2 linked regions of the Homo sapiens genome follow. The protein of the gene in region 1 purifies or fractionates together with the protein of each later gene. This does not show direct contact. Each region holds a gene or a part of one and is shown on either strand. Other genes may lie near its edges.

The links. Proteins that work in one complex are often made in the same cells at the same time.
Region 2: the proteins of COX5A (region 1) and TMBIM4 purify together in Homo sapiens (co-immunoprecipitation; one large-scale study listed by IntAct). This does not show direct contact.

What each region holds. Positions count from the first base shown.
Region 1 is NC_000015.10:74,923,975-74,928,810, reverse strand, and holds part of COX5A (cytochrome c oxidase subunit 5A, mitochondrial precursor), read left to right. Parts: intron 1-1,923; coding exon 1,924-2,045; intron 2,046-4,836. UniProt on the Homo sapiens protein: Component of the cytochrome c oxidase, the last enzyme in the mitochondrial electron transport chain which drives oxidative phosphorylation.
Region 2 is NC_000012.12:66,167,197-66,171,317, reverse strand, and holds the start of TMBIM4 (protein lifeguard 4), read left to right. Parts: upstream 1-1,321; 5' UTR 1,322-1,366; coding exon 1,367-1,463; intron 1,464-4,121.

The sequences.
Region 1 (4,836 bases):
ATGTTTCTAGGCATTACCCAGTGTCTCCTGAGGGATGAAGTCACCCTTAATTGAAAACCACTGCTATAGCAATAAGGCTAGATGAGCAAAAGGTAACAGTTTTGTACATTTCAAACAATTTACATAGCACGGGCGCGGTGGCTCACGCCTGTAATCCCAGCACTTTAGGAGGCCAGGGTGGGCGGATCACGAGGTCAGGAGATCAAGACCATTCTGGCTAACATGGTGAAACCCCGTCTCTACTAAAAATACAAAAAAATTAGCCGGACGTGGTGGCGGGCGCCTGTAGTCACAGCTACTCGGGAGGCTGAGGCAGGAGAATGGCGTGAACCCGGGAGGCAGAGCTTGCAGTGAGCCGAGATCGCGCCACTGCACTCCAGCCTGGGCAACAGAGTGAGACTCTGTCTCAGAAAAAAAAAAAAGAATTTACACAAAGCAGTCATTTGGTTCCCTTCCCCTTTGGGTGATGGTTTGGGTTTTTTGTTATTTTTGCATTGTTTTGCCATGAATAAGTATCTAAGTAAGTTAGAACTTGTCTTTCCTAAATTTGCAGATGCACACTTAACATGAAAAAATAGAATTAGGTGTAGGGTAATTTATCTCATACCAAAAATTCAATCTCAATGACTATCGTATTCACTGGTATCCTTTGTTTAAATATTTTAAAGTAATAAAAGCAAGAAACCTAAGTGCTTTAAACTTCTCTGCAGAAATGTAATGATTCCCTTTTGCTACAACCAATAGAATTCTTACTGAACAATCTGGAGTAGAAGTAATAAAAAGAACAATTATGTATTCCCATTAAGAGAATCTTAAATTTTATTATGTGTCATTTTGTGCAGATCTGAAAGTAATCATGCCCAATCATTTTCTGGTTGAATGTTTATGAGTCTGTGTACTAATGTTTCTCTATAATATCTCCTTAATGTCCTCATTTAGGCTTCATTAACTCTACGCATTTCTCTGGCTGTTTTTAGGCTGTTTTCCAGTTGAATCTCTTTTATTTTGGTTTTTTTGTTTGTTTGTTTTGTTTTGTTTGAGATGGAGTTTCTCTCTTATTGCCCAGGCTAGAGTGCAATGGCGCGATCTCAGCTCACTGCAACCTCCACCACCTGGGTTCAAGTGATTCTCCTGCCTCAGCCTCGAGAGTAGCTGGAATTACAGGCATGTGCCACCACGCCCGGCCAATTTTGTATCTTTAATAGAGACAGGGTTTCTCCATGTTGACCAGGCTGGTCTTGAACCCCTGACCTCAGGTGATCCACCTGAGCCCAGCCTTGAATCTCTTTTAAAGCATCCAAAATGTGTTCATTGTACTAAGAGTTAAAGATAGGAGGGCCGGATGTGGTGGCTCATGCCTGTAATCCCAGCACTTTGGGAGGCCGAGGCAGGTGGATCACGAGGTCAGGAGTTCAAGGCCAGCCAGGCCAAGATGCTGAAACCCCGTCTCTACTAAAAATACTAAAATTAGCTGGGCTTGGTGGCACCCGCCTGTAATCCCAGCTACTTGGTAGGCTGAGGCAGGAGAATCACTTGAACCCAGGTGGCAGCGGTTGCAGTAAGCTGAGGTGGCACCACTGTACTCCAGCCTGGGTGACAGAGCAAGACTCCATCTCCAAAAAAAAAGTTAGGAGTTGAAAATGACCCTCTTGTTCTCAAAGGGGAAAAAAAAAACTCAGGATTTTTTCCTTCAATCTGCGTGCTGTTGCATAGTTCTTTCTTTCCACTGATTCACTAAGGGAGATCCACTGTGATCTTATTATCTAGAATTTGTTAAAGGTAGGTTTCTCTCATTTTATAGGTAAGAGAATGGAGACCCAGACAGATAAGATCATACATCAGTGATTCAGTAAAAATATAAATAACTCATAGTTTAAGTGAGGCTCTTCGAGGTTGACATGGCCCTTCTTTTTAATTTTGCAGGGATAAACACACTTGTTACCTATGATATGGTTCCAGAGCCCAAAATCATTGATGCTGCTTTGCGGGCATGCAGACGGTTAAATGATTTTGCTAGTACAGTTCGTATCCTAGAGGTTGTTAAGGTCAGTGAAATAATAATGCTAAAATTGTTCTGTAAATGAGTGGGCTATTGCTGAGGTATCAGAATATTCTGTATTTTTGAATTTGTTAAAATGCCTAAAATGAGTCCTTATATAACTAGAAGGAATGTACATTGCAGTTAAAATCTTTCTAGAGGCTACTTTGGCAGCATTTATTCAAGGCCTTACAAATTGTACATGATACACTTTTGTTCAGCAATTCCATTTAAGAATTTATCTTTTTTCTTTTTTCTCTCTTTTTTTTTTTTCTTTCTTTTTTAAGAATTTATCTTGGCCGTGTGTGATGGCTCATGCCTGTAATCCCAGCACTTTAGGAGGCTAAGGCGGGTGGATCATGCAATGTCAGGAGTTTGAGACCAGCCTGGCCAACATGGTGAAACCCTGTCTCTACTAAAAATATAAAAATTAGGCCAGGCGCGGTGGCTCACGCCTGTAATCCCAGCTCTTTGGGAGGCCGAGGCGGGCGGATCACGAGGTCAGGAGATCGAAACCATCCTGGCTAACACGGTGAAACCCTGTCTCTACTAAAAATACAAAAAAATTAGCCGGGTGTGGTGGCAGGCGCCTGTAGTCCCAGCTACTCAGGAGGCTGAGGCGGGAGAATGGCGTGAACCCGGGAGGCAAAGCTTGCAGTGAGCCAAGACAGCGCCACTGCACTCCAGCCTGGGTGACAGAGCAAGACTCTGTCTCAAAAAAAAAAAAAAAAAAAAAAAAATTAGCTGGGCATGGTGGCACATGCCTGTAATCCCAGCTACTTGGGAGGCCCAGGCAGGAGAATTGCTTGAACCCGGGAGGCGGAGGTAGCAGTGAGCTGAGATCGCACCATTGCACTCCAGCCTGGGCAACAAGAGAGAAACTCCGTCTCTAAAAAAAAAAAGAAAGGAATTTATCAAGGAAATAATAAAGGATATATAAAGATTTAACTACAAAGTGTATTCATCTTCTTGCTATTTGTCATACGAAATGTTAGGAATTCTTAAGAGGGAGCTTCCCAGAACTGGTTATACTACACAACTGTTGATACTGTAGAAATGTGTTTGACTTTAAACATATTTGTGTCGGCTGGGCACGGTGGCTCACGCCTGTAATCCCAGCACTTTGGGAGACTGAGGCAGGTGGATCACCTGAGGTCAAGAGTTCGAGACCAGCCTGACCAAGATGGAGAAACCCCATCTCTACTGAAAATAAAAAATTAGCCGGGCGTGGGGGTGCATGCCTGTAATCCCAGCTAGTCGGGAGGCTGAGGCAGGGGAATTGCTTGAACCCGGGAGGCAGAGGTTACAGTGAGCCAAGATGGCACCATTGCACTCCAGCCTGGGCAACAAGAGAGAGAAACTCCATCTCAAAAAATATATATATACATTATATGAAAACATAGGAGGATATATACTAATTTTCCTCCTTCTTATTTGGTCATAATTTCTGAGTTTATTTATTTTTTCGAGACAGAGTCTCACTCTGTCGCCCAAGCTGGAGTGCAATCATTGCGTGATCTCAGCTCACTGCAACCTCCGAGGTCTCCTGGGTTCAAGCAATTCTTCTGCCTCAGCCTCCCGAGTAGCTGGGATTACAGGCTAATTTTGTATTTTAAGAGACGGGGTTTCTCCATGTTGGTCAGGCTGATCTCAAACTCCTGACCTCAGTTGATCCGCCCGCCTCAGCCTCCCAAAGTGCTGGGATTACAGGCGTGAGCCACCACGCCCGGCCGGCACTTTCTTAGTTCTTTTGACTTCTTATTCGTTCCTAAGGAACCTTGTGACAGCACAGGTGTAACTATATATTACAGTGAAAAGTCTCCAGCCCTGGACATATGTATTCTCAAAGTACAGCTCTCCATGAAAAGATACTGTGGTCTGTAAGAAAGAAACTTAAGGTCCGTTAACAGCAAAAGTGTGACATTACTTTATCTATAATGGGTAAGATAATTAAGGGTTCTGTAGGCTATCAATCCATTCAGCACTGGTAGTTAATTCAGTTAAGGTCTCAAATTGGAGGCAAATGAAAAAACTTTTCCCGTTAACTTAATTATTCGTGTTGCCTGCTGGGCATGTCTAATTGCCTTCACAAAATTCTGTCATCACTACCTTCTTTTCCAGTAATTCTAGACTTTAAGATGTTCTGGATTTAGTCCAATTGCAGTTATTCTCAAGGTATTTCAAAAGCCTACCTTGAACAGTACATATATAAGTTGCCCTCTTTATTTTTATTTAATTATTATTATTTTTTTGAGACAGAGTCTCGCTCTGTCCCCTAGGCTGGAGTGTAGTGTCATGATCTCAGCTCACTGCAACCTCCGCCTCCCTAGTTCAAGCATTCCCGAGTAGCTGGGATTACAGGGGCGTGCCACCACACCCAGCAAATTTTTGTATTTTTAGTAGAGACGGGGTTTCACCATGTTGGTCAGGATGGTCTCGAACTCCTGACCTTGTGATCCACCCGCCTTGGCCTCCCAAAGTGCTGGAATTACAGGCATGAGCCACGGCACCCAGCAAGTTGCCCTACTTACCGAACAAATGTGTTAACTTAAAAGTAGATGACCTGTTTTGTTTTGTTTTGTTTCGTTTTTTGAGATAGAATCTTGTTCTGTCACCCAGGCTGGAGTGCAGTGGCGTGATCTTGGCTCACTGCAACCTCCGCTTCCCGGGTTCAAGCCGATTCTCCTGCCTCAGCCTCCCGAGTAGCTGAGATTACAGGCATGTGCCACTACACCTGGCTGATTTTTGTATTTTTAGTAGAGACGGGATTTCACCATGTTGTCCAGGCTGGTCTCGAA
Region 2 (4,121 bases), on another chromosome or scaffold:
ATGCTTGTAAAATGTTTGTAAAATCATAAAAGATAAAGTGTTTTTTTGTTTTGTTTTGTTTTTCTTGTCATTGTGGAAGTGACGTTAGTTCTTTTGGCAAAGGCTTCTGAGAACATCAAGTTTAAGGATTTAGTTTAGAATAGACTGTTCCACAACTGTTCTGAATTCCACTTGCTAAGTGTTCGGGTGTTGTGGTTAAGGTGAGGACTGGGCAATGTGGGTAGATCAGAGTAAACTCATCAAAACAATTCCAAGGGACCCTAGGATGACACTACTCTGGGTATGTCTACACCTCTTTATATTGGAATGACAACAATATCATGAATATTCACTCTAATCCATTGTATTTGCCACCATCATCTCTCTCTTACAGTAATACAACTTTATCCCCTTTTCTCTGCCTTTGGTAATGGCCCTCTTCAATGTATTCTACTTCTGGCCTAGGATGATCTGGCCTTTGTTTATCTATCCAGCCTCATTCTTTGCCACCTGTCCCCTACACCAGCTGAGCTTCACCGTCTCCCTCTTTGCAGACGTTGGTCCCTTGAGGCCCAGCCTACATCACTGCTCTTTCTCTGGTTGGCTCCTACTTGCCTTTCAGGATTAAATATTACTTCATTCAGAAAGCCTGGTTTATAGAAAGTGCTCAATAAATGTAGGTATTATTATTATTTTAAAATAATAGAAGTAAAAATGCATCCTCGGTGTGATTATTGAAAAAGTGGATGAATGAGATGGGTATTTGTTGAGTGGATGGGTGACTGGGACATGGGTTCTATCACTTTAGCAACTCTCCAAGGTGAAAGGACTTAAAGTGTGTTCAGGCTGGGCGCGGTGGCTCACGCCTGTAATCTCAGCACTTTGGGAGGCCGAGGCGGGCGGATCACGAGGTCAGCAGATCGAGACCATCCTGGCTAACATGGTGAAACCTCGTCTCTGCTAAAAATATAAAAAAATTAGCCTGGCGTGGTGGCAGGCGCCTGTAATCTCAGCTATTCGGGAGGCTGAGGCAGGAGAACCGCTTGAACCCGGGAGGCGGAGGTTGCGGTGAGCCGAGATCGTGCCATTGCACTCCAGCCTGGGCAACAAGAGTGAAACTCCATCTCAAAAAAAAAAAAAAAAGTGTGTTGAGAAAAGTTTCACTTCAGATGACGCCGGGAATGTAAACCGTTTTCTCTTCCATTCTAACTCGGAGCCATCCCCGCTTTCTCCGCCCAGCTGGAATTTTTGAAGCGAGAAAATCGACTCGCTCGGTGTTCGCCCGCCGACGCCGCACGGCTTGCTGGGGCTGGGCTCTTCCTCGCGGAAGTGGGGAGGAGGCGGTTGCGGTTAGTGGACCGGGACCGGTAGGGGTGCTGTTGCCATCATGGCTGACCCCGACCCCCGGTACCCTCGCTCCTCGATCGAGGACGACTTCAACTATGGCAGCAGCGTGGCCTCCGCCACCGTGCACATCCGAATGGGTACGTTGTCCCCTCTCCAGTGCCTCCCAGCCGCTTGTCTGCACTGCTCGGCCTCTAGAAGCCGACTTCCGGCTTCCGAGGGAGAGCGGCCATCTCCTGGGACTCACAGGGAGTGCTCACTGAGCTCCCGGCCCTCCTTCTCCGGGTACCAGAGGACTGGCGCCCTCCTCAGGGAGTCGGGGAGGCGCTTCCTCCCCTCCTAGCGGGTGTGGGAGGGCGCCAGGCCCAGAAGGCTTGCGGCTGTCCTGTGTGCGCCCCGGCTCCCCAGCGGGCGCCGCGGTGTAGGAAGGGACAGATGGAAACCGCCGCAGCCTGAATTTGGCATCTTGAAGTGAAAAGAAACGTCGTGGAAATGAGTCGGTTGATCACTGTGACTGACGTACACACGAGTGGAATCCACGGCCTGATGTTTTTGTTCTGTGGGGTTTCGCGTTACAGGCTTATATTTACCGTCCTGTGCTAGGCTGGAAGCTCCCTGACGGCACTATTTCCTCTCCGCAGGGCCCAGAATGCAACAGGTCTTTGAGGATTATTGAGGAAGTTGCTCAACACAGAAGCTTCCTAAGTCAGTCTAAATTGTGTTTTAAGTTATTACGTAGTAGCCAATGGGCAGAAATTTTTGAATTTAAAATGCTCAGCTTCATCTACGTGGAAGCCATTGCCTGCTCTAGTTTGGTCATTTGATCGCCGAAACAGCCCCAGACTTTCAGCCTGTTTAGGCAGCTGGAACTTGTTCTGGAAAAGGAAAGATGAAGATAGTTCTGATGTGCTAAGAATCTTAGTGCCTAGAACTTGTTCTGGAAAAGGAAAGATGAAGATAGTTCTGATGCACCAAGAATCTTGGTGCCTAGCATTTATATTTTTGGAATTGAATTTTGAAATTATTTTGGCCAGTGAACTCAGCTTTTTTTTAAAAAAAATTAATTGTGGTAAAATACAGGTAACATAAAATTTACCGTCTTAACTATTTTTAAGTGTATAGTTCAGTAGTGTTAAGTTATTCACATGGTTGTGCACTGTTAAAAGAAAAACTTTAGACACATTAAATCTAACGGAGTTTGAGCACAGAATGATTTGCGAATTGGGCAGGTCCCGGAACCAGAATAAGGTTCAGAGTGATGAGTCCTGCCGCTTGGTGGGAGAAAATTTATGGAGAGAGAAAGTAAAGTGAGGTACAGAAAATAGAAGTGAGGTACAGAAAGAGTTGATTGGTTACAGCTTGGTTTTTGCCCGTTTGAACATGGTTTGAACACGTGGCCATCTTTGGCTGAAACTCAGTGATTGGTTCAAGCGTAGGTTACAGCCTGTTTACTAGGTTATAGTTCACTATATACCGAGAACCCCTAGGCTGAACTTAAAATATCTAAAGGCATAGCTTTAGACTAAACTTATATACCATCCAATATCCAGAACTTTTTAATCTTGCAAAACTGAAACTCTATACCTATTAACTCCCCATTCCTTCCTTCCCCCAGTCCCTGGAACCACCATTTCACTTTCTCTCTCTGTGAATTTGGCTACTCTAGATACAATCAGTATTTGTTTTTTTGTGGTTGGCTTTTTTCAATTAGCATAATGTCTTCAAATACATCCATGTTGTGGCATATGTCAGAATTTCCTTTTTTTTTTTTTTTGAGACAGGGTCTCGCTTTGCCACCGAGGCTGGAGTGCAGTGGTGAGATCACTGCTCACTGCAGCCTCTACCTTCTGGGCTCAGGTGATCCTCCCGCCTCAGCCTCTCGAGTAGTTGGGATTACAAATGCAGGTCACCAGGCCTGGCTAATTTTTTTGTACTTTTGGTAGAGACGGGTTTCTCCATGTTGCCCCATCCGATCTTGAACTCCTGGACTCAAGCGATCCTCCCACCTCAGCCTCCCAAAGTCCTGGGATTACAGGCATGAGCCACTGCACCTGGCTGCAGAATTTCCTTTTTAAGACAGTAGTAGTACTTTGTATGTATATACCAAATTTTGTTTATTCATCCATTGATGGACATTTGTGTTGCTTCTACCTCTTGACTACTTTGAATAGTGCTGTCATGAATATAGGTGTGCACATACCTCTTCAAGACCGTGCTTTAATTCTTTTGAATATATACCCAGAAGTGGAATTGCTGGATTGTGTGGTAGTTCTATTTTTAATTATTTAAGGAACGGCCATACTGTTTTTGATAGGGGCTACATCATTTTACATTCTCAGCAACAGTGCACAAGGGTTCACCTTTTTCTACATCCTTGCCAACACATTCCGTTCTTTTCTTTCTTTTTAAAATGAAAATAGCCATCAAATGAGTGTGAGGTGGTATGTCCTTTTGGTTTTGATTTGCATTTCTCTAATGATTTAATGATGTTGCACATTTTAAAAGTATGCGTGTGGGGCATTTATACATTTTCCTTGGAGAAATGTTATTCAAGTCCTTTGCCCAATTAATTTTTTAAAAGCAATTTTAGGTTCATAGCAAAATTTAGCAGAAAGAACAGAGTTCTTATATACCCTTTCTGCTTTTCCCCAAGCCTCTTGCACTAATAACGTTCTGTACCAGAGTGGTATGTTTGTTACAATCAGTGAACCTAGACTGGACACCTCATTATCACCCAAGACCAAGGTTTACGTTAAGGTTCGCTCTTAGTGTTGTATATTCTATGAGTTTGACAAATG